7 linked regions of the Homo sapiens genome follow. The gene in region 1 interacts genetically with each later gene. Each region holds a gene or a part of one and is shown in the gene's direction. Other genes may lie near its edges.

The links.
Region 2: changes in CHEK1 (region 1) and CDC73 are lethal when combined (synthetic lethality), as found in Homo sapiens cells (one large-scale study listed by BioGRID).
Region 3: changes in CHEK1 (region 1) and RFC1 are lethal when combined (synthetic lethality), as found in Homo sapiens cells (one large-scale study listed by BioGRID).
Region 4: changes in CHEK1 (region 1) and SMARCA4 together harm fitness more than expected from each alone (negative genetic interaction), as found in Homo sapiens cells (one large-scale study listed by BioGRID).
Region 5: changes in CHEK1 (region 1) and VEGFA together harm fitness more than expected from each alone (negative genetic interaction), as found in Homo sapiens cells (one large-scale study listed by BioGRID).
Region 6: changes in CHEK1 (region 1) and TOP2A are lethal when combined (synthetic lethality), as found in Homo sapiens cells (one large-scale study listed by BioGRID).
Region 7: changes in CHEK1 (region 1) and DHFR are lethal when combined (synthetic lethality), as found in Homo sapiens cells (one large-scale study listed by BioGRID).

Annotation. Positions count from the first base shown.
Region 1 is NC_000011.10:125,645,663-125,649,162, forward strand, and holds part of CHEK1 (serine/threonine-protein kinase Chk1), read left to right. Parts: intron 1-3,500. UniProt on the Homo sapiens protein: Serine/threonine-protein kinase which is required for checkpoint-mediated cell cycle arrest and activation of DNA repair in response to the presence of DNA damage or unreplicated DNA.
Region 2 is NC_000001.11:193,146,031-193,149,530, forward strand, and holds part of CDC73 (parafibromin), read left to right. Parts: intron 1-1,836; coding exon 1,837-1,935; intron 1,936-3,500.
Region 3 is NC_000004.12:39,307,363-39,310,862, reverse strand, and holds part of RFC1 (replication factor C subunit 1), read left to right. Parts: intron 1-1,830; coding exon 1,831-2,227; intron 2,228-3,500. UniProt on the Homo sapiens protein: Subunit of the replication factor C (RFC) complex which acts during elongation of primed DNA templates by DNA polymerases delta and epsilon, and is necessary for ATP-dependent loading of proliferating cell nuclear antigen (PCNA) onto primed DNA.
Region 4 is NC_000019.10:11,027,030-11,030,529, forward strand, and holds part of SMARCA4 (SWI/SNF-related matrix-associated actin-dependent regulator of chromatin subfamily A member 4), read left to right. Parts: intron 1-754; coding exon 755-921; intron 922-3,500. UniProt on the Homo sapiens protein: ATPase involved in transcriptional activation and repression of select genes by chromatin remodeling (alteration of DNA-nucleosome topology).
Region 5 is NC_000006.12:43,780,211-43,783,598, forward strand, and holds part of VEGFA (vascular endothelial growth factor A, long form), read left to right. Parts: intron 1-521; coding exon 522-593; coding exon of another isoform or gene 594-644; intron 645-1,745; coding exon 1,746-1,877; intron 1,878-3,388.
Region 6 is NC_000017.11:40,393,897-40,397,396, reverse strand, and holds part of TOP2A (DNA topoisomerase 2-alpha), read left to right. Parts: intron 1-931; coding exon 932-1,114; intron 1,115-1,857; coding exon 1,858-1,948; intron 1,949-3,500. UniProt on the Homo sapiens protein: Key decatenating enzyme that alters DNA topology by binding to two double-stranded DNA molecules, generating a double-stranded break in one of the strands, passing the intact strand through the broken strand, and religating the broken strand.
Region 7 is NC_000005.10:80,634,484-80,637,983, reverse strand, and holds part of DHFR (dihydrofolate reductase), read left to right. Parts: coding exon 1-101; intron 102-3,500.

The DNA of each region.
Region 1 (3,500 bases):
GCCCTTGTTCAAAGGAGAACAAGTGTCAAAGCAAAGTTGAAGTGAAGTGATATTTTCATTCAGCTTAAAATTTAAAAAAATAAAGGGCAAACAACTACATAAAGGCCAATAAACACACACATATCTGGTAGATAAGGCCAATGAAGAGTATATGGTTATTTATTATACTCTTTTTTCAGTTTTTCTGTAGATTCGAGTTTTCAAAATTAAAAATTGGGGGAACTGTTACTGTGTAGAAATCTGAGGTCAGCCTGATAGTCTTCTCACTCACATAGGTGATTCACTTTCTTTCAGGTAGACTCAGAGATAAAATTTGCATAACATAAGAATCATCACTTTAACCATTTTAAAATGTAAAATGCAGTGCTTTTTAGTATATTCACAAGGTTGTGCAACCATCGCCCCTAATTCCAGAACATTGCATCACCACGGGGAAAAAAAAACAAAACACCTCTGTACCACCTAGAATCACTCTTTATTCCTTTCTTGCTCCATTCCCAGACAACCTCGAATCTACTTTCTGTCTTTAGGGATTGCCTTTTTGGACATTTTATATAAATGGAATCATATAACATGTAGTCCTTTGGGTCTGTCTGCTTTCATTTAGCACGTTTTCAAGGTTCATAGCATCTATCAGTACTTTATTCCTTTTTATGGCTGAATAATATTCTGTTGTGTGTATGTATTACATTTCGTTTATCCATTCATCCACTCATGGACATTTGGGTTGTTTCTACTTTTTCATCATTATGAATAATACTGCTGTGAACAATCTTGTACCAGTTTTTGTGTGACCATATGTTTTCAATTTCTTAGATATATATGGAGGAATAGAATTGTTGGAGCATATGGTAACTCTTCATTTAACTTTTTGAGAAACTGTGAAATGATTTTTCCAAAGCACCTGTACCATTTTACGTTCCCATCAGTAATGTAAGAGGGTTCCAATTTCTCTACAACCTTGCCAACACTTACTGCCTCCCCTTTTTGCTATGGCCATCCTAGTGTGTATGAAGTCTTATCTCATTTTGCTTTTGATTTTCATCTCTCTAAAGACTAATGATCTTGAGCATATTCTTATATGCTTATTGGCCATTTCTTTATAACAGTATCCGGATATTTTGTCCATGCTTTAACTGGCTTGTTTTTATTGTTGAGTTGTTAGAGTTCTTTTACATTCTGGACACTAGAACCTTGTCAGGTACCTGATTTGCAAATATTTTATCCCATTCTGTGGGAGAAAATTCCCCCATTCTTTTGTTTTCTTGTTAGTGTCGTTTGATGTACTCAAGTTTTAGATTTTGATGAATTCCAGTGGATCTATAATTTCTCTTTTGTTGCCTATGCTTTTAGTGTCAAATTTAAGAAACTGTTGCCTGATGTAAGATTGTAAAGATTTATACTTTATGCTTTCTTTTAGGAGTCCCAGCCTCCTAAGTAGCGGGGACTACAGTCTTAAAGTTTAGCTCTTATATTTAGGTCTTTGTCCATTTTGAGTTAATATTTGTATATAGTATGATGTAGGGTGCAAATTCAAATGTTTGTATGTGAATATTCAGATTCCAGCACCATTTGTTGAAGATATGTTTTACTATTAGATGGTCTTGGCACCTTTGTTGAAAATAAATAGGTCATAGATGTATGGGTTTATTTCTGGAATCTCAATTCTTTTTTTTTCCTTTTTTTTTTCTTCCCCTGTGGACTCAATTCTTTTATTTCATGGATCTATATGTCTGTGCTATGCCGTTACCACACTATGTTGATTACTGTAGCTTTATAGTGAATTTTGACATTAGAAAATATGAGTTGTCCAAGTTTGTTCTTTTTTTCAAGGTATTTTGGTTATTTGTGGCCCCTTGTTTTTCTGTCTTTTAGGATTATCTTATTTCTGCAAGAAAAAAATTTGGAATTTTAAAAGAGATTACATTGGGGAGTATTTCCATTTTAGTATATATTGAGTATTCTTTATTCAAGGTGCTTGGGACCAAAAGTTTTGTGGATTTTACATTTGTTTGGATTTTGGAATATTTGCATATGCATATTGAGATAACTTACAGATGGGACTCAAGTTGAAACATGAATAATTTTATTTATGCTTCATATATACCTGATACAGATAGCCTGAAGGTAATTTTATACAATGTTTTAAATAATTTTGTGCATGAAACAAAGTTTGTACATTGAACTATCAGAAAGCAAACCTGTCAGGTATGAAATTTTCAGTTTGTCACATGATGTCAGCACCTGAAAAGTTTTGGAGTTTGGAACATTTTGGATTTCAGATTTGAGATTAAGGATGCTAAACCTCTAATAGTAACTCTTCTAATCCAATAACATGGGGCCTTTTTTTTCCCATTTTTTTAGGGTCTTTAATTTCTTTCAAGAATATTTTGTAGTTTTCAGTGTTCAAGTCTTGCACTTCCTAGGTTAAATGTAATCCTGTTTATTCTTTTTTTTTTTATCCTGATGCTGATGTAAATGGAATTTTTTAAAATTTTATTTTCAAATTGTTCATTGCTATATGCAAATGAATTTTGTATATTGATCTTGTATCCTGAAAATTTGCTGAATTCATTAACTCCAGTAGTTTTTTTGACAAATTCTTTAGGTTTTTTAATATATTAAGATTACATTATTTGGCAGGGCGTGGTGGCTCACGCCTGTAATCCCAGCACTTTGGGAGGCCGTTGCGGGTGGATCATGAGGTCAAGCGTTTGAGACCTGCCTGGCCCACATAGTGAAACCCCGTCTCTACTAAAAATACAAAAAATTAGCTGGGCGTGGTTGCGGGCACCGGTAATCCCAGCTACTCGGGAGGCTGAGGCCGGAGAATCACTTGAACCTGGGAGGCGGAGGTTGCAGTGAGCCGAGATGACGCCACTGCACTCCAGCCTGGGCGACAGATCAAGACTCCGTCTCAAAAAAAAAAAAATTACATTGTTTATCAATAGAGATACAGGAAATTGTTTTACTTTTTTTTTTTTTTTTAACCCAGATGCCTTTTAATTCTTTTTGTTTAGTTGTCCTGGCTAGGACTTCCAACATTATGTTGAACAGAAATAGAGTCTTTGTCTTGTTCTTGATCTTAGGGTTAAGTTTCGAGTCTTTCAGCATTAAGTATGATGTTAGCTGTGGGGTTTTTGTTTTTATGGTGAAAGAGTATTGGATTTTGTCAAATGTTTTCTCCGTCTATTGAGATAATCATGTGGATTTTTTTTCCCTTTATTAATATAGCTTGACCTCCTGTGCCCAAGTGATCCTCTCATCTCAGCCTCCTAAGTAGCTGGGACTACAGGTGTACACTATCATACCCAGCTAACTTTTTAAAAATGTTTTTGTAGAGATGCAGTCTCTGTGTTTACCAGGCTGGCCTTGACCTTCTGGGCTCAAGTGATCCTCCTGAGTAGTGGGTACTACAGGTGTGCACCACCATGCCCAGCTAAATTGACAGTTTTCATCAGTCTGTTTATTTTGTCTAATGTTAGTATATCCACATCAGC
Region 2 (3,500 bases), on another chromosome or scaffold:
AAACTAGTGAGGGAGGTGAGAGGGGTAAGGTGGGAAGAGTGGTCCCAGCCAAGGAAACAGAATGCCTTGTTTAAAGAAGAGAAATTATGTTGTATTTGAGGTTCATGAGGGCAGCGACCATGTCTTTTTTGATCATCATTGTACCCAAGTGCCAAGCAAGGTGTTTGGCTTAGAGTAGATTCTTACTACATATTCCTTCAAATGTTAAGTGATTGATAGGCAGCATAAGAAGAGCCCCAAAGGAACTGTCAGACATTAGGGGTAAAACCAAGAGAGAGTAGCATCTCAGAGGCCAAGTATCTTTGTCTGTTTTGTGCTGCTGTGGATATCACAGACTGGGTAATTTATGAAGACAAGAAATTTATTTCTCATATTTCTGTAGGCTGGGAAATCCAAGAGCATAGCAGTGGCATCTGGTGAGGGTCATTTCATGGCAGAAGGCAGAAGCAAGCAAGCAAGCAAGCAAGCAAGCAAGCAAGCAAGCAAGCAAATGAGACACAGAGAGAAATGGGGCCAAACTTACTCTTTCGGGAATCCGAGCCCACTTTTGCAATAACAACATTAATCCATTCGTAAGGGTGGAGCCCTATGACCTACCTAATCACCTCCTAAAGGCTCCACCTCCTAATACTATTAGAATGGAATAAAATTTCAACATGGGTTTTAGAGGAGACATTCAATCCATAGCATGAAGGAAGAATATTTCATGAAGGAAAGAGTCGTCAGATTAGTTAGCTGTGTTGACTTTTGATCAGCATGTAATTGCATTGTGAGTTGAAGAGCATTTGTACTTGTACTTTCCAACTTACACATCTTTGAAAAGTGTACATTGACTTCTGATAGTATCTCAAAACTCATATGTAGCAATCTGAAATTAGCACTGGAGTTTAACAGGAGGATGTAGTAGTTGATTATTTTTTTTTCTGAACTAGAAGCCTCTTTTGACAAATGTATTTATATTTTATTTAGATTTTTTTTTTTAGACGGATTCTTGCTCTGTCTCCCAGGGTGGAGTGCAGTGGCGCTATCACGGCTCACTGCAAGCTCCACCTGCTGGATTCACGCCATTCTCCTGCCTCAGCCTCCCAAGTAGCTGACACTATAGGTGTCCACCACCACGCCCAGCTAATTTTTTGTAGTTTTGGTAGAGACGGGATTTCACCGTATTAGCCAGAATGGCCTCAATCTCCTGACCTCATGATCCACCTGCCTCTGCCTCCCAAAGTGCTGGGATTACAGTCACGAGCCACCGTGCCCGGCCTTATTTAGATTTTAACTTGCTTTCTGGTTATATATTTGAACAGATGCAGAATATGAATACATTTGTAGCAGTTTTTTTTTTCTTTTTTTTTTTTGAGATGGAGTCTCGTTCTATTGCCCAGGCTGGAGTGCAGTGGCATGATCTTGGCTCACTGCAAACTCCGCCTCCCGTGTTCACACCATATTCCTGCCTCAGCCTCCCGAGTAGCTGGGACTACAGGCACCTGCCACCACGCCCAGCCAATTTTTTGTATTTTTAGTAGAGACGGGGTTTCACCTGTGTTAGCCAGGGTGGTCTCCATCTCCTGACCTCGTGATCTGCCTGCCTTGGCCTCCCGAATGTAGCAGTTTAAGTAAAATGAAAATGATGAAATGAATACCATGGGATTTACAATAATCAGTCTCTGGATCAATATCTTAGTAGTGGTTGGTTTTTACATATGTGTATAATAATGATACCTTATGACATATGTAGTAGGGAAGAATCGATAGTAAGATAACTTAGTCTTAAATTATCAACTAAATTTACTATTGTATATTTAAAGTGGGCTTAATTAAAATCCATTTATATTTTAGAATTTTTCCAAGAACATTTTTGCAATTCTTCAATCTGTAAAAGCCAGAGAAGAAGGGCGTGCACCTGAACAGCGACCTGCCCCAAATGCAGCACCTGTGGTAAGAATGCTTTACTGCTTTACAGTAGATTTAATGAAGTTGCCACTTATATTGCAGTGTAGTAACGTTGAAGACATCTTCACATTTTAAAATCAGTGGATTCTAAACCTTTTGCTCCTTTAGCATATCTGAAAGATGTGAAAGCCCTCCCCAACATTAAAAGTTACTTACTTCAGCAGTAATTCTTAACTGGAGCAGTAATTCTTAATATACCTGGGTCAGAGTCTGAAAAAGGTTAATTAGGGAAAGCCCTCTATTTATTTTAGGTAAACTGTGGCTGGCCTACTCATTGTTGCTTGGGACAATTGCTAACCATTGTTAATAACATAAATCCCTGTTAACTCCCAGTTTGGGGTTCTTTTTGGCATTGTATCTATTACATCTTGGTGAATGTATTTCTCTTGATCACCAGCCATGCTGTCCTTTAATTGTACCTCCATTTCAGCTGCTCTGAGAGTTGACTGCCTTCTCTTTGAAGTGCCACTTAAGACCCTCCCAAAGTAAATTTCACGTATGACATATAGCCTATATTTAAATTCAAACATCCTCTAATTTTGTTGAAAATCCTTCCAGCTATTTTCATATGATTCAACAAAGGAATAAAACATACAAATGAAATTGTTTCTATTTTCTGCAATAGAAAATAGAAGATTCTATAAATAGAAAATTTATAATTTTTTTTTTTTTTTTTTTTTTTTTTGAGACAGTCTCACTCTGTTGCCCAGGCTGGAGTCAGTGGCACGATCTTGGCTCACTGCAACCTCCGCCTCCTGGGTTCAAGCGATTCTTCTGCCTCAGCCTCCCAAGTAGCCAGGATTACAGGCGCATGCCACCCCACCCAGCTAATTTTTGTATTTTTAGTAGAGATGGGGTTTCGTCCTGTTCAAGACCAGGCCGGTCTTGAACTTCTGACCTCAGGTGATCTGCCCACCTCGGCCTTCCAGAAAACCTTCTATATTTTTAAAACTCTGTTTCAAGTTTTAAAAGGCACATTGAAATGTATTAGAGTACTAATACAGCCTTTGCAACTACTTTGTAGTAGTTTTATTTGCTCATGAAATTGTTGGAATTTAACTTTTAAAGATGGTAGGCTTTTGTTGATAATTAGATAAATACTTTTAGTTGACTCTCCATCAAGTACTTAAGTGCCTTCTATTAGGAAGTCTGCTAATGATCTTGAGATACAATAGTGAGAAAGATTATAGTCCCTACTTTCTTTGAGCTTATAGTCTAATACAGCAGTCCCCAACCTTTTTGGCACCAGGGACCAGTTTCGTAGAAGACAGTTTTTTCATGGACCAGGGGGAGGTTTTTGGAATGAAACTGTTCCACCTCAGATCCTCAGGGTTTAGTTAGATTCTCAAACGACCATGTAACCTAGATCTCTCAGCAGTTCCCTACTTATTAGATGTTTTTTTTTTTTTAAAGTAGTGGAGTAAGAGCTATGATGGCAAAGCACAAGGTACTTAGAATTATGAATTTGTTGACATTTTGAATAGCTGTTGATAGGAAACATGTCAAACCTTAAAACAGTTTTACCATTTGTGACTGATTATTCTTTCTGT
Region 3 (3,500 bases), on another chromosome or scaffold:
GCCATATTCTCACGTTGACTTTATGCAAAGGTTATTGTTTAAGAGTTCCTTAAAGGATATTTTAATAGGTATTAGCATGATAAATTTGTTTTCAATTAGAACTGTATTAGGACTTTTTAAATTGTGCAGACACCTAGCCTGTATTAGCTTTTGCAAAAGGAAAAATGTTGGCTCACATAACTAAACTATGGGCAGGGAGGGTCTGGTCTAGGAACTATTGGATCCACAGACTACAAAGCTGTGAGGACCCCTTCAGTTTCTGTCTCTCTGTTTCTACTAGTTAGCCTCATTCATTCCCACTGTAGACCATCTTTTTTTACACACAGGACACAGGATTGCCAGCATTCCAAGATTTTAATGTCCCCAGCTCTGTCACCCAAATGGCAAGATGGTCCATCCAGGTTATTCCGGTTAGAGAAATCTAGGGAATGATTTCGATTACATAACCATAGCATAGTTATAAAAACCAGGAAATTAACATTGATGCCGTATTGTTAACTAACCTGTACATATTTTTCGAACCTTACATTTTTCCCTGTAGTTCTTCTGTTCCAGGGTCCCACACTGCATTTAGTTGTGTCTTCTTAGTCTTCTCCCGTCGATGACATTTCTTCAGTCTTTCCTTGTCTTCTTACAACCTTGACACTTTTAATGAGTACTGGTCAGTTTTGTGGAATGTCTCTCAGTTTGGATCTGTGATGTTTTCTCATGATTAGGTTGAGGTTATGCCTTTTTTCTAAGAACACCATGGATGTGATCTTGTGTCCTCAGTGCATCCTATCATAGATACAGGATGTCAATAACGTCTTATTATTAGTGAGGATAATCTTGATTATTTGGTTAAGATGATTCAGCATCCCACTGAAACTAGTGCTGGGTTCCTTCACTAGTAAAGTGACTATTTTTTCCTTTGTAATCGATAACTGTCTTGGCAGGAGAAGGAGGTACTTATGCTTATATCCTGTTTGTCCTTAAACATTCATCCACTAATTTTAGCATCCACTGCTAAAGAGGCACTAATTTTTTTAAAAACTGAGATATTACATACTATAAAATCCACCCTTATAAAGTATACAAATCAGTGGTTTTTAGTATATTAACAAGAGTATACAACCATTAGCACTGTGTAATTCCAGAACATTTTCCTCACCCTGAAAAGAAACCCTGTACCTATCAGCAGCCACTCATTCTATCCACCCCGTGGCACTCACTGCTCTGCTCTGTCTCTATGGATTTTCCTATGCTGGACGTTTCACGTGTGTATGGAGACATTAGAATATATGGCCTTTTGTGTCTGGCTTCTTCCACTTAGCATAGTGGTTTCAAGGTTGACCTGGGTTGTAGCATGTATCAGTGCTTCAGTCCTTGTTAGGGGTAAATAATATTTCATTGTGTGGACACATCCTATTTTGTTTCTTTTTCAGTTGATGGACATTTGGATTGTTTCCATCTTTTAGCTATAATGTGGTTATGAACATTTGTGTACAAGTTTTTGTCGAGGCATTAACTTTTAATTAGGAAACTTTGAAACAAAAATCTCAACACTGTACCTTGTTTTTTTCAAACTAAAATTGGAGTACTTATTACTTTTAAAAATCAACGTGTTGTCACTTTTAGAAATTGCATTTGGTGGTTTCTGGTGTGTTTGTTAATTTTTATAGTTTAGAAGGTGGTGATTTCCACAAACAGGAAAGTCTGTTGTGAAAAGACCAGCCCAGGTTGAGTAGCCCACTTGGATATCTCTGATTGCTCTCTGTAGTACGTTTAGCAGGATAGAAATTCTGTATGTTTCATCAGGTTTCTTTTTTCCTCATTTTTCCACTTCTTAAGATGAAGAAAGAGTCCAAACTGGAGAGAACACCCCAAAAAAATGTCCAAGGAAAAAGAAAAATTAGTCCATCTAAAAAGGAATCAGAATCTAAAAAGAGCAGGCCGACTTCCAAAAGGGACAGTTTGGCAAAGACAATAAAAAAGGAAACAGATGTGTTTTGGAAAAGCCTGGATTTCAAGGAGCAGGTGGCTGAGGAGACAAGTGGTGACAGCAAGGCTAGGAATTTGGCTGATGACAGCAGTGAAAACAAAGTGGAAAATTTGCTCTGGGTGGATAAATATAAGCCAACCTCGCTCAAGACCATAATTGGACAGCAAGGTGACCAGAGCTGTGCCAACAAACTCCTACGCTGGCTCCGAAACTGGCAAAAGAGTTCTTCCGAAGATAAAAAACACGGTGATTTTACAACCTCACTCATTTTTGTGTGTGTGTATATCAACATGTGATTGCTCAGTGGCACATATATGAGAAAATCTAACGATTCATTCATCTGTCAGCAAGCATTTATTAAGAGCTTGATCTGAACCCAGGTGCAGTACTAGACCCTGCTGGTGGTGTTGTGAACAAAACAGTCCCTCTCAGGAGCTCACAGGCAGTGGGGGAGGCATATCTGAACCAGCCATTAAAATATATTTGCCAAGTACTGCTAGAGGGGTAAGTCCAGGGTGCTGTGAGGATGAAGATGTGTGGTCAGGGCCAGGGTGTGTGTGCTCCCATCCCAGAGGAAGGGATGGCTAAGCTAAGACTTGGAAACAAAGTAGGAGCTAGCTAGGTGAAGGGAGGGAGAGATGAGTGTTGGGTAGGAAAGAGTATGTGTCCCAAGGTCTGAAGCCATGTGACAGCAAGACCCCTGAGTGGCAAGGGCACTAGGAGGAAAGCTGTGAATAAATAACAGAGGCATGCGTGCAGGGCAGTCAGCCTAAACTCCCAGTAGCAAGCACGATTTGCTGTGGCAGGCCCGATAGGCCTGTGCTTCTGTAGTTTCTGTCCTTGTTTATGATGTATTATTTGTCGTGGAGAGTGAAAAGCTCCAATATGTATTTAATGTCCAAAGTATTTTCTTAACTGAGCTTTGAGATCACAAATGTTTTAGTAGTGTTTTCAACATAGACCAGTGATGACTAGATTGCCAATCATCATTGCCAATGATGCCTGTTTATTTATAAAAATAATATATTGTAATGATACAGGACTAAATTTAAGTTAAATCACTTTTTTCATTCTGAAACTTCATAAAATCTCCCTTAAAAGAGGAGACAGGCATTTCATGTGCCTGGAGAAGACTGTTTTTTTTTTGTTTTGTTTTGTTTTGTTTTGAGACAGAGTCTTGCTCTGTTGCCCAGGCTGGAGTGCAGTGGTGCGATCTTGGCTCACTGCAACCTCTGCTTCCTGGGTTCAGGTGATTCTTCTGTCTCAGCCTCCTGAGCAGCTGAGACTACAGGTGCACACCACCATGCCTGGCTAATTTTTTGTAGTTTTAGTAGAGATGGGATTTCACCATGCTGGCCAGGCTGGTCTTGAACTCCTGACCTTGTGCTCTACCCGCCTTGGCCTCCCCAGGTGCTGAGATTACAGGCGTGAGCCACCGCACCCAGCCAAGAAGACTGTTTTAAAGCTTCGGGTGAACTCTAGTCCCTGTCTTCATGCCCGCTGGCAGTAGGTTGAAAAC
Region 4 (3,500 bases), on another chromosome or scaffold:
TTTAAGCCCCTAATGGATGTGGATGCTGTGTCTAGATTTTCACCATTGCAAAGAACCTTGCTAAAAGCATTCTTCCAGCTAAAGCCTCCATTCAATTCCCCTGGGGTAGTAAGCCATTTGCAAGAAGAGAGGCGCCTAATGAAAACATCACAAATTCTTTTTGATGTGTTTTTTTATACTGAGTTGTGGAACAGGGTCCTGTACACCTGGCTTCAAGGCTGGGAGGCCTGGCTTGGACATGTGGTCAGCCATATCACGTCGTCCCCCTGCCAGCCTCAGTGTCCACATCTACAACACTTGGGGTTTGGCTGGAGAGAACATGAGAAGCCGAGGTGGCCCTTCCTTCTGGGTCTAGCAGAGCATGGGTGTCTCCAGTGTGGCATTTGCTCCTGGGGCTTCTTTATCGGGCAAGGGGACAAGGTCTGGCTTCCCGGAGCATCCCTGTTCCAGCCCCGTGTTGTGCCGGCCATGTGACTCACAGCTCCTCTCATTTTCATGAGTGTCTGGGTTTGACGAGAAATACATGTGCCACCCTGGTGATACGCCTCCCCAGCGAGGGTGGCCGGGCTTATTTCAGTTGGGGGAAATGGCTTTGCTGAAGCTTTGGGTGGGTGACGTCTGCTTAGGATGCATGTCTGTGCCCTTGAACCCGGCGCCTGGCCTGGAGGCGGGCGATGCACCTCCTGCCTTACCTGCCTGCAGGGTTCCAGGTTTAACATCCTGCGCCTTCTCTCCTGCCTCCTCCACACTCCAGGCTGGACCTGTACCGAGCCTCGGGTAAATTTGAGCTTCTTGATAGAATTCTTCCCAAACTCCGAGCAACCAACCACAAAGTGCTGCTGTTCTGCCAAATGACCTCCCTCATGACCATCATGGAAGATTACTTTGCGTATCGCGGCTTTAAATACCTCAGGCTTGATGGTGAGTATGAGCCAGTGAGGCGTTTCTTACAGGGTTTTGTTGTTGTGGCTGCCACAGAAGCTCCTCACTGGCATTCCCTCCTGTGAGGCAGGGTGAGGCCCAGGCGCTCTGGGTCCAGTGGCCAGAGTGGGCCTAGCCACAGGCTGAGCATCTTGGGCACTCGGCACTGGGACAGGCCGTGGATTGGACGCCGGGTGTCCTGACTCCTAGGCTGACAGTCTTTCCACGACAATGCTGGGCGCACTGGGGAAGGGGTGCCCTGTGCACTTTTAGCTGGAAGTGACAGAATTCCATACCATGTGGACACAGGAAAGAAAGCACCAATAGGCTTACATAGCTCTAACCCCAGGAGGTTAAACATCCTTCAGGCACAGCTGGATCCAGGCATGCAGGTGATATTGGAGAGACTTTTCTCCAGCTCTTTGCTCTGCCTTCTTCCATCTTGGCTTCCTTTCCACCTGCTCAGTGTCCCCAACAAAGGCAGGTCCCAGGCTGGCTCTCATTTAGCTGCTGTGAGCCGCATGCCCATCCCTGGGCCATTCGTAGCAGCCCAGTGACTGCCACCTTGCCACAGGTCAGGCCTGGACCTGGAATCAGACTCTGTGGTGAGCACGGAGGGAGGGAAGCAAGCACTGCCAGGCAGGAGCAGCAGCTGCCGTAGAGAGGCTCTCAGCCCAACCCCCTGCCCTGCGGTCCCTGATGGGAAAGGTCACCGCCTGTGTTTCTGCGCCTGCCTGCCCCAGCACACGGGAGCTCAGGGAGGAGAGGCTGTGAGATGCCGACAGGGCACGTGAGACATGTCTGTCAGTCCCAGTGGGTCAGGGAGCCCTGGAGTGAGTTCTTCGTGGGAGTTACTAGAACTGGGCTTACGAGAAACACGAGCATGAGCTGCTGAGACAGACACGGCTCAGCCAGTTTGTTGTTCCCTACACGACCTCCCAGAGCCTTTGTTGAAGCTCCTGTGCAAGGTCTGTCTCACAGCAGGACACCCCAGACCTCCATACCCCTTGTCCCGTTGATCACTTGGACCTGTGTTTGCTGGGCCAACCTGCCCAGGTGCCACCCGGAGTGTGCCCTGTGTGTCCCTCCAAACTGCAGGTCCTCCCCGGGGTTCTGTCCAGGACCACTCTACAGACACGAGTCTGTTGCAGGGGTCTCCCCGGCTTGCCTTCTTCCTTGGGGGCTTCCCACTTTCAGCTTTGAGGCTGAAAACCAAAATCCTTCAGGGTCCTCATGGCCGGGCCACCCCCCACCCTTTCCTCTCCTACGGTCTCTCCAGCGGCTTCTCCCGTCCTCGAGAGGGCCAAGGCTTCCTGAGGGCCATCCCGTCTGTGTCGTGTCCCTGACTCCCCCAGGAGAGAGCCTGGTTCCCACCCATCCCAGTGCCCTTCTGCCTACTCCATAAGGACAAGGACTTTGGTCAGTTGAACTACAGATGTGTCCTCTGCATGTGATGTGGTCATGGCCACAGGGCCAGAGAATCCATTGCGAGTAGAGGAAGGGTAGGAGCTCAGTGAAGTCTCCTGAGACTGCATCTCCCATGGGTGGGCTGGCATCTGGGAGCCGGGTGGCCCCTCACCTCAGCCCCTCCTCCGAGCTGGAGTAGCAGGGGCACATCTGGTGCCTGAGAGAGGGTGGGACGGCAGGTGGATGGCCAGGCTACTGTGGGCTTCTGCACCGTGCCTGGGCATGTGTAGGCTGGTGGCAGGAAATGGCCAGTTTTTATTTCTTCTTTTTTTTGAGACGGAGTTTCACTCTTGTTGCCCAGGCTGGAGTGCAGTGGCATGATCTCAGCTCACTGCAACCTCCGCCGCCTGGATTCAAGCGATTCTCCTGCCTCATCCTCCCTGGTATCTGGGATTACAGGCGCCCGCCACTACGCCCAGCTAATTTTCTTGTATTTTTAGTAGAGACGGGGTTTCACCATGTTGGCCAGGCTGGTCTCGAACTCCTGTCCTCAGGCGATCCACCCACCTCAGCCTCCCAAAGTGTTGGGATTACAGGCATGAGTCACCGCGCCCGGCCTGCCAGTTTTTATTTCATCACCAAAATGACTTCAGTGTTCAGGGGCACCTCTGTCCGAACTCCCAGCAGCGCAGGGAGTGTTGACATTGCCTTAATGCCCACAACGCTGAGGGCATCGTGGGTTGTCACCCAGGAGACCTGCTCTGGCTCCTTGACTTGGGTTTTCTGGGGCATGGGGACACTGATCCTGCCAGAAAGGACACGAGCCCCCTTTATAAGGTCTCCATGCTTTTACCGTAGAAGATTCTCTTTGTGAACCACAAAACTTTTTGAGACAGGGCTGAAGGCAGGTGCACCCACAGTCACTGTCCACCCACCCCCAGGTCCCTTGTGTTGCGAGCGGCGGTGTTGCCGGCATTGGCCGCTGTGTCTTCCGCTCCCCATGGAATGGCACAGGGTAGAGTAGAGGAGAGAATCCAGGGCTGTGGTGGTGGTGGCTGTGCTGACGCTGGACGCTGTGGCCTAGCTGTGGGCTGGGTGCTGGACTCTGTGCTCCAGGCCCACCTCCTCTAGTTCTCCCAGCGGGGCCTGTTTTCATTTCTGGGATGTGTGGA
Region 5 (3,388 bases), on another chromosome or scaffold:
GCAGTTGCAAATGAAGGCACAAGGCCTGATACACAGCCCTCCCTCCCACTCCTGCTCCCCATCCAGGCAGGTCTCTGACCTTCTCCCCAAAGTCTGGCCTACCTTTTATCACCCCCGGACCTTCAGGGTCAGACTTGGACAGGGCTGCTGGGCAAAGAGCCTTCCCTCAGGCTTTGCCCCCTGCCGGGGACTGGGAGCCACTGTGAGTGTGGAGACCTTTGGGTCCTGTGCCCTCCACCCAGTCTCGGCTTCCCACCAAAGCCTTGTCAGGGGCTGGGTTTGCCATCCCATGGTGGGCAGCGTGAGGAGAAGAAAGAGCCATCGAGTGCTTGCTGCCCAGACACGCCTGTGTGCGCCCGCGCATGCCTCCCCAGAGACCACCTGCCTCCTGACACTTCCTCCGGGAAGCGGCCCTGTGTGGCTTTGCTTTGGTCGTTCCCCCATCCCTGCCCACCTTACCACTTCTTTTACTCCCCCCACCGCCCCCGCTCTCTCTCTGTCTCTGTTTTTTTATTTTCCAGAAAATCAGTTCGAGGAAAGGGAAAGGGGCAAAAACGAAAGCGCAAGAAATCCCGGTATAAGTCCTGGAGCGTGTACGTTGGTGCCCGCTGCTGTCTAATGCCCTGGAGCCTCCCTGGCCCCCAGTACAACCTCCGCCTGCCATTCCCTGTAACCCTGCCTCCCTCCCCTGGTCCTTCCCTGGCTCTCATCCTCCTGGCCCGTGTCTCTCTCTCACTCTCTCACTCCACTAATTGGCACCAACGGGTAGATTTGGTGGTGGCATTGCTGGTCCAGGGTTGGGGTGAATGGGGGTGCCGACTTGGCCTGGAGGATTAAGGGAGGGGACCCTGGCTTGGCTGGGCACCGATTTTCTCTCACCCACTGGGCACTGGTGGCGGGCCCATGTTGGCACAGGTGCCTGCTCACCCAACTGGTTTCCATTGCTCTAGGCTTCTGCACTCGTCTGGAAGCTGAGGGTGGTGGGGAGGGCAGACATGGCCCAAGAAGGGCTGTGAATGACTGGAGGCAGCTTGCTGAATGACTCCTTGGCTGAAGGAGGAGCTTGGGTGGGATCAGACACCATGTGGCGGCCTCCCTTCATCTGGTGGAAGTGCCCTGGCTCCTCACGGAGGTGGGGCCTCTGGAGGGGAGCCCCCTATTCCGGCCCAACCCATGGCACCCACAGAGGCCTCCTTGCAGGGCAGCCTCTTCCTCTGGGTCGGAGGCTGTGGTGGGCCCTGCCCTGGGCCCTCTGGCCACCAGCGGCCTGGCCTGGGGACACCGCCTCCGGGCTTAGCCTCCCATCACACCCTACTTTAGCCCACCTTGGTGGAAGGGCCTGGACATGAGCCTTGCACGGGGAGAAGGTGGCCCCTGATTGCCATCCCCAGCAGGTGAAGAGTCAAGGCGTGCTCCGATGGGGGCAACAGCAGTTGGGTCCCTGTGGCCTGAGACTCACCCTTGTCTCCCAGAGACACAGCATTGCCCCTTATGGCAGCCTCTCCCTGCACTCTCTGCCCGTCTGTGCCCGCCTCTTCCTGCGGCAGGTGTCCTAGCCAGTGCTGCCTCTTTCCGCCGCTCTCTCTGTCTTTTGCTGTAGCGCTCGGATCCTTCCAGGGCCTGGGGGCTGACCGGCTGGGTGGGGGTGCAGCTGCGGACATGTTAGGGGGTGTTGCATGGTGATTTTTTTTCTCTCTCTCTGCTGATGCTCTAGCTTAGATGTCTTTCCTTTTGCCTTTTTGCAGTCCCTGTGGGCCTTGCTCAGAGCGGAGAAAGCATTTGTTTGTACAAGATCCGCAGACGTGTAAATGTTCCTGCAAAAACACAGACTCGCGTTGCAAGGCGAGGCAGCTTGAGTTAAACGAACGTACTTGCAGGTTGGTTCCCAGAGGGCAAGCAAGTCAGAGAGGGGCATCACACAGAGATGGGGAGAGAGAGAGAGAAAGAGAGTGAGCGAGCGAGCGAGCGGGAGAGCGCCTGAGAGGGGCCAGCTGCTTGCTCAGTTTCTAGCTGCCTGCCTGGTGACTGCTGCCTTCTCTGCTTTTAAGGCCCCTGTGGTGGGCTGCAGGCACTGGTCCAGCCTGGCGGGGCCTGTTCCGAGGTTGCCCTGGTTGCCTGAGTGGTAGGCTGGTGTGGCTTAGTGTAGTGGTGTGGACGCAAGCTGTGTGTTGTGTCCTGTGGTCCTTCTGCTCATAGTGGCTGTTGGTCCTGATGTTATTACTACCTCTGGTAGTAATGCTGAGAAGCTGAAAGCCGATTCCAGGTGTGGACAATGTCAACAAAGCACAGATGCTCTCGCTGGGGCCTTGCCTCGGCCCTTTGAAGTCTGCATGGCTGGGCTTCTCACTCACTCAGTGTTTCTTGCTGGGGGAAGGAATTGAGTCTCCCACTTCAGACTGGGCCTCCCTGAGGAAAGGGTTGTGTCTCCCCACTCAGACTGAGGTTCCCTGAGGGTAGGGCTGTGTCTCTCCCCTCCGACCTGGGCTCCCTGATAGGGCTGTCTCCCCGCTCAGACTGAGGCTCCCTCAGGCCAGGGCTATGTCTCCCTCCTCAGACTGGGGCTCTGAGGGCAAGGGGTCTGGCTGTTCGTTTAGGATGGGGCACTTTTGCCTACACACTGAAGGAGCTGTAGCATCCAAGAATACTAGATACCTTTAATCCTCCACCAGTCATGGTGACAACCCCAAGCAGCCCACACATTTTCAAGTGCCCCCAGGATGCGTGGAGGGAGGGGTCTGTGCCCATTCTCCTGACATTAGCCTGTGAGCTCCGTAAGCCCGGGCCTCGTTTACGTACCTTTGTGAGCCCCGGGCATCTGTACCTCTTTCCTTTGCCCATACTGGGGACCAAGGAAGTGTCAAGTGCATGAGTGAATGTGTGACTCAGTTCAGAGGGTGAGGTCAGGAGCACAGGGTCGGGACAGGTGGCTGGCATCTTTTAATGCCTTAGCTTATGTTCTTTATACCAACTTGGCCTGTGCTCAGAGTGAGGGAGGCCCTGGGGGTCAGGGTAAGCGTCAGTCAGGGAGGCAAGACTTTGTGGGGATTTCCTAGACAGGGCCAAGGCACCCCCAGCTCACCCCGAGGCTGTGTTAGGGAAGTCCTTGGAGTGTCTCCCCTCCCCCAGCAATGTTCTTGTGGCTTGTGTGTGCTCAGGGGATGCTGGGAACCAGGCCTGGGTAGTTGGTGTGGGGTGCTGTCTGTCTTGGCCCTATGTGAAACCAAGAGGGCGTATATTAGTGCTGGGGTGGGGGCTCTGCCTAACTTCAGGGCTGGATGAGGGGAGTCTCAGTTCCCCAGGGGTCCTTGGGAAAGATAAGGGACTTGACATTTTAGGGTTTTTAGGTGATTATTCTGCTGATGGGGGTTTGTGTGAAGTGACCTGGGAG
Region 6 (3,500 bases), on another chromosome or scaffold:
AGAAAATTGCTTGAACCCAGAAGGCAGAAGTTGCAGTGAGCCGAGATTGCGCCACTGTACTCCAGCCTGGGTGACAGAGCAAGACTCCATCTAAAAAAAAAAAAAAAAAAAGGAGAAAGCAGGGCTATCCAGATGGTTTCAGAAGGTTATTTGTTACTTAAATCTTCCTAATAACATTTGTTTCTCAACATTATTTTAACATAAGAAAAAAGGCCAGCACTGTGGCTCACACCTGTAATCCCAATGTGCTTTGGGAGGCTGAGGCAGGAGGATCACTTGAGATTAGGAGTTCAAAACCAGCTTGGGTAACGTAGCAAGACCTCATCTCTACAAAATGTTTTTTTTAAATAGCCAGGCATGGTGGTGTGGGCCTATAGTCTCAGCTACTCCGGAGGCCAAGGTGGGAGGATCACTTGAGACCAGGAGTTCAAGGCTGCAGTGAACTATGATCATGTACCATTGTACTCAGCCTGCGTGTCTCTTAAAAAAAAAAAAACAAAAAAAAAACCACCAAAAGCTTTATTTCTTAAATTTAACATGCAAATTTGTATTACTGCACTTCAGTATAGATGCCTAGCTCATTGTAATCAGTTGGTTGGATAAGTGTGCATCACTTCCTTTCATATTTTGTATGTGAGTTTACAAATATATATGTATATACATGTTTTATTTTTAGTTTCTCCCTTGTTTTCCTCAAAAAGGTTAAGTGGTAGAATCAGGAATAAAACCCAGTCCTTCTGTCTCCACACCTTCCTTTTCAAGGTGTGTTTTAATTACATCTTCACTATTGTTGATAGTATACTAGGTTATGGAGCAATTTATCACTAGTTTTTAAGATGTAACAAAATGAAATCAGTTTAACTGTTGGGTGTTTAGATATTGTAATGTTTTTGTTAACATTTAAACTTGCTTTCTTATATCCCTTCTGTAGGCTGTTGAAGCCAAGGAAAAACAAGATGAACAAGTCGGACTTCCTGGGAAAGGGGGGAAGGCCAAGGGGAAAAAAACACAAATGGCTGAAGTTTTGCCTTCTCCGCGTGGTCAAAGAGTCATTCCACGAATAACCATAGAAATGAAAGCAGAGGCAGAAAAGAAAAATAAAAAGAAAATTAAGGTAATACTCTTGTGGTGGCTCACACCTATAATCCCAGCACTTTGGGGGCCAAGGTGGGTGGATCACTTGAGGTCAGTGGTTCAAGACCAGCCTCCCAACATGGTTGAAACCCTGTCTCTACTAAAAATTAAAAAAATTAGGCGGGCATGGTGGCAGGCGCCTGTAATCCCAGCTACTCGGGAGACTGAGGCAGAAGAATCGCTTGAACCCGGGAGGCAGAGGTTGCAGTGAGCCAAGGTCACACCACTGCACTCCAGCCTGGCCAACAGAGCAAAACTCCATCTCAAAAAAAAAAAAGAGGTAATACTCTTAAAAATATTATGCATAAAATATTGATGCATATGTCCACTTAAAATTGAAAAAAAAATGTATAAAATTTTTTTGTTGTTGTTGTTGAGATGGAGTCTCGCTGTGTTACCCAGGCTGGAGTGCAATGGCAGGATCTCAGCTCACAGCAACCTCCGCCTCCCGTATTCAAGCGATTCTCGTGCCTCAGCCTCCCAAGTAGTTGGGGGCACATCACCACACCCAGCTAATTTTTGTATTTTTAGTAGAGATGGGGTTTCACCATCTTGGCCAGGCTGGTCTCGAACTCCTGACCTCAAGAGATCTGCCCACCACGGCCTCCCAAAGTGCTGGGATTACAGGCGTGAGCCACCGCTCCCAGCCAAAAATGTATAAAATCTCTAATCCCATAGTTCAGAATTTATTCTATATCCAACCCTAACTTTGCTATCTTTTAGAATGAAAATACTGAAGGAAGCCCTCAAGAAGATGGTGTGGAACTAGAAGGCCTAAAACAAAGATTAGAAAAGAAACAGAAAAGAGAACCAGGTATTACAACATTTTTAGAAAAATGGTATAAAGTGAAGATTAAATTGTGTTTGTTACCTAGTACATTCCACATAGATGTTCAAAACCTTTTTGTTGAATTGAGAAACGTGAAAGAGGACTGTATCTCAATTCTACTTGGACCTCTTTTTTTTTTTTTTTTTTTTTTTGAGACAGTTTCACTCTTGTTGCCCAGGCTGGAGTGCAATAGCACAATCTCGGCTCACTGCAATCTTCACCTCCTGGGTTCAAGCGATTCTCCTGCCTCAGCTTCCTGAGTAGCTGGGATTATAGGTGCATGCCACCACGCCTGGCTGCTTTTTGTATTTTTAGTAGAGACGGGGTTTCACCATGTTAGTCAGGCTGGTCTCAAACTCCTGACCTTGTGATTTGCCCGCCTTGGCCTCCCAAAGTGCTGGGATTACAGGCGTGAGCCACTGCCCCTGGCCTGGACCTCTTTAATATCGTCCTTGGGATTTGATTCATTATAGAAAATATTTTGTAATGAAGTAGTTTGTTAATTTGAATTCCTTAATTGGGATCTAAGAAAATACCCAGTTTATTAGATTTCATTTTCTAGCCACTTACGAGGTTCTAGTATACAAAGTTTCTTAAGAAAAGTGACTACATATTAGTAATGTTTGTAGTATCTCTAGAGTTCAACATCATGCTTCGGATATAAATAATGTCCACTCAATGAACTAAATAGAATTAATAATTCTGTTAATCATTTGATAATGCCTTTACTGTCTACTTTTTTTGAAACATCTTTATTGAGATATTCACATGCCAAATTTGCCCATTTAACGTATACCATTTGGCTGGGCGCCATGGCTTATGCCTGTAATCCCAGCACTTTGGGAGGCTGAGGCTGGCGGATCACTTGAGGTCAGGAGTTCAAGACCACCCTGGCCAACATGGTGAAACCCCATCTCTACTAAAAATACAAAAATTAGTTGAGTGTGGTGGTGCGTGCCTGTAGTCCCAGCTACTCGAGAGGCTGAGGCACGAGTGTCGCTTGAACCCAGGAGGCAGAGGTTGCAGAGAGCCAAGACTGTGCCATTGCACTCCAGCCTGGGTGACAGAGCAAGACTCCAACTCAAAAATAAAAATAAAGTATGCCATTCAGTGGTTTTAGTATAGACAAACAGTTTTAATACAATTTATTGCCCCCCAAGAAAACTGAACTCATTAACAATCATTTGCCATTTGCCACCAACTCCTCTCCACTGGGTGACCACTAAAAAATCTAGGGGCATTTCCTATAAATTAAATCATATAATATGTGGTCTTTTGGAGCTGACTTCTTTACTTAACACATTTTCAAGGGTAACCCATGTGGCAGCCCATATATTAGTACTTCATTCTTTTTTTTTTTTTTTTTTTGAGGCAGAGTTTCGCTCTGTCGCCCAGGCTGGCATGCAGTATGCAGTAGTAGTGAGATCTCGGCTCACTGCAACCTCCGCCTGCTAGGTTCAGGCAATTCTCCTGCCTCAGCCTCCCGAGGAGCTGGGATTACAGGCACGCACCACCATGCCCAAATAATTTTTGTATT
Region 7 (3,500 bases), on another chromosome or scaffold:
TTTCCAGAAGTCTAGATGATGCCTTAAAACTTACTGAACAACCAGAATTAGCAAATAAAGTAGACATGGTCTGGATAGTTGGTGGCAGTTCTGTTTATAAGGTAAGTGTAGTTGTTGGTAAATAAAAACAAATGTTCTGTTCTACTTTCAGCTTCCTTGCCATTTAAAGGAAGTGGAAGAAACAGGTATAACTCATTGTCTGAACCTTTAAAAAATTAAGCCATGCGTATAGGAAGCAGCACATTATCTGTACTGTAAATTATTTGTTGTTAGTTGAAATTATTTGTTGTTTGATACTATACAAACTAAATAGAAATGCAAAAATAAATATTTTAGTCTGTATCAGCCTTTTTTATTTATTCATTTATTTTTGAGACAGGGTCTTGCTTTGTCACCCAGGCTAGTGTGCAGTGGCACTGTCTCACTGTAGCCTCGAGCTCCAAGGCCCAAGCAATCCTCCCACCTTTCCTCCCAAGTAGCTGGGATTATAGGCACACACCATCGTGCCCGGCTAATTTTTGTATATTTTGTAGAGTCAGGATTTTGCCATGTTGCCCAGGCCGGTCTTGAACTCCTGGGTTCAGGCAATTCACCTCCCAATGTGCTGGGATTACAGGTGTGAACCACCACACCCAGCCTATTTATCTTTTTAATTGGCAAATAATTGCATATATATATATATATATATATATATATATTATGTACAACATGTTGTTTTGAAATGTGTATACATTGTAGAATGGCTAAATGGAGCTAATTAACATGTATTACCCACTTATTTTGTGTGGTAAGAACACTTAAAGTCTACTCTCTTAGCAATTTTCAAGAATACATTTGTTATTAACTAAAATAATAGATGTTGTACAATAGATCTCTTGAACTTACTCCTCCTATGTAACTGAAATTTTGTATCCTGTGACCAACATCTCCCCAATACCAATCTACTTTCAAATCAAAGAATAATTGATGTTTCCAATTTAAAATCCATTCTAAATCTTTTCCTGAGAATTGTACTTGCATTGCACTGGTTTCTACTCCCTGAATGTACCCTAGATACACTGAGTTATGCCTTTGTCTTTCAGGATGAATATATCTCTTACTGAGAAAGGGTTGGGGCTCTCAGTTGATATACACTAACTAGATGTATATGAATTTATTACAAGTAGAAAACTTCTTCAACCAATTTTTTTTTGTTTTGTTTTTGTTTTTTTGAGATGGAGTCTCACTCTGTCAAGACTCAGTCGCCCAGGCTGGAGTGCAGTGACACGATCTTCGGCTCACTGCAAGCTCCACCTGCCAGATTGACGCCATTCTCCTGCCTCAGCCTCCTGAGTAGCTGGGACTACAGGCGCATGCCACCACACCTGGCTAATTTTTTTGTATTTTTAGTAGAGACGGGGTTTCACTGTGTTAGCCAGGATGGTCTCAATCTCCTGACCTGCTGATCCACGCACCTCGGCCTCCCAAAGTGTTGGGATTACAGGCGTGACCCACTGCGCCCGGCCAATATACCTCTTTTTTAATACCAAATGACTTCCAGCTTTAAAATTTTTGAGGATAACAAATAGAATTCTTTGCCTTTTAAAACACCAATGAAAAATTAACATTTATGAGGAGGAAGAAAAATCTAGTTTCTGCCATGTGGGTGGTCTTGTGGTAAGATATATACAGTGAAATTATTTTAGAAAGAAGAGGTAGGCCGACGCCTGTAATCCCAGCACTTTGGGAGGCCAAGGCGGGTGGATTGCTTGAGGTCAGGATCTAAAAACCAGCTGGGCCAAGATGGTGAAACTCCATCTCTCCTAAAAATACAAAAATTAGTTGTGTGTGGGCGCGGGCCCCTGTAGTCCCAGCTACTTGGGAGGCTGAGGTGGGAAAATCACTTGAACATGGGGGGCAGAGGTTGCAGTAAGCTGAGATCGTGCCACTGCACTCCAGCCTGGGTAACAGAGTGAGACTCTGTCTCAAAAAAAAAAAAAAAAAAAAAAAAAACTCTCAGTTTCTTGGGCTCCTGTTTCTAGAACCTCTTATGTTCCCCATTTGTAATAGAAGAAAAGGGACATTTTTTCTTGATATTTTTATCCAAGTATGAATTTCTTCTAAGAAAACAAGTTATTTATTTTGTTCAGTGCCTACCACACTTTGAATGATTCATTACCATAGTCACTTGAAAATGTATTCTTTAAGCAATATAAGTACGTAAATGCCTTTATATAATATGATAAATCTACATATAGATAAATAGGAAGTAGAACCTTCGAATGGTATTTTTACACCTGCCTCACATCACAACAGCTTGTAGATATCATTCAGGCTTATCTTCCTATGGGCCAAATCGGACCTCCCAGCCTGTTTTTGTAAAGAAAGTTTCAGTGGAACACAGACCCACCCATTCATTCAGTTCTGTCTGTGGCCTGCAAAGGTAGGAAACCCTATGGCCCTCAGAGCCTAAAATATTTACCATCACTCCTTTTACAGAAGGTTTGCCTTGTATAATCAACTTTTTTTTTCTTTTTTTTTGAGACGGAGTTTCGCTCTTTTTGCCCAGGCTGGAGCGCAATGGTGCAGTCTTGGCTCACCGCAACCTCCGCCTCCCGGGTTCAAGTGATTCTCCTGCCTCAGCCTCCCAAGTAGCTGGGATTACAGGCATGCGCCACCACGCCCAGCTAATTTTGTATTTTAAGTAGAGATGGAGTTTCTCCATGTTGGTCGGGCTGGTCTCAAACTCCTGACTTCAGGTGATCCACCTGCCTCGGCCTCCCAAAGTGCTGGGATTACAGACGTAAGCCACTGCAGCCGACTTATAATCAACTTTAATGCAGAACTTCACCACCACAGTCAATCTAATAATCCAGACAGCTCCTAAGTGACTAAGGGGCAGGTAACATAGACAGCATGTGCAGGACAAAGGGATAATTCACGCCCTAGGCAGGACAGAGCAGAATGGCTCAAGATTTCTTCACACTACTTAGAACAGCATGTCATTTAAATCTTATGAATTATTTCTGGAATTTTCCAGTTAATATTTTCAGACCACAGTTGACCATAGATAACAAACTGGAAAGTGAAACTGCAGATAAGGGGGGAGTCTGCATTCCACTTTTTAAATTTTTGGTACAGTAAGAATTAGTAGAGCATCTATTTGGTTGTAGCAAAGATAATAAATGATTTAATATAAAATGATATATTGAAAATAAAAAGTGAAATTTGTTCTGTACCCTTATTTGGAATTTTAAAAATAAACACTTGGATTTGTTGTGTGTGTGTGTGTGTGTGTGTATTTTTCTTTTCTATAAACTATTTGAGATCAAGAATTACTGCTTTGTTAGAATTGCAATTAAGACATACTTTTTATGAATGAGAATTTTAATACACTCATTCTAGGGCAACTTTTTCTGTAGAAATTATCAACCATATTTTAGGCAGTAGTTAGAAAAGTCATGTACAATATAAAGCCAAATGTTAATACAATTGTTAGCACCAAGAAGCAGAAAAATTAC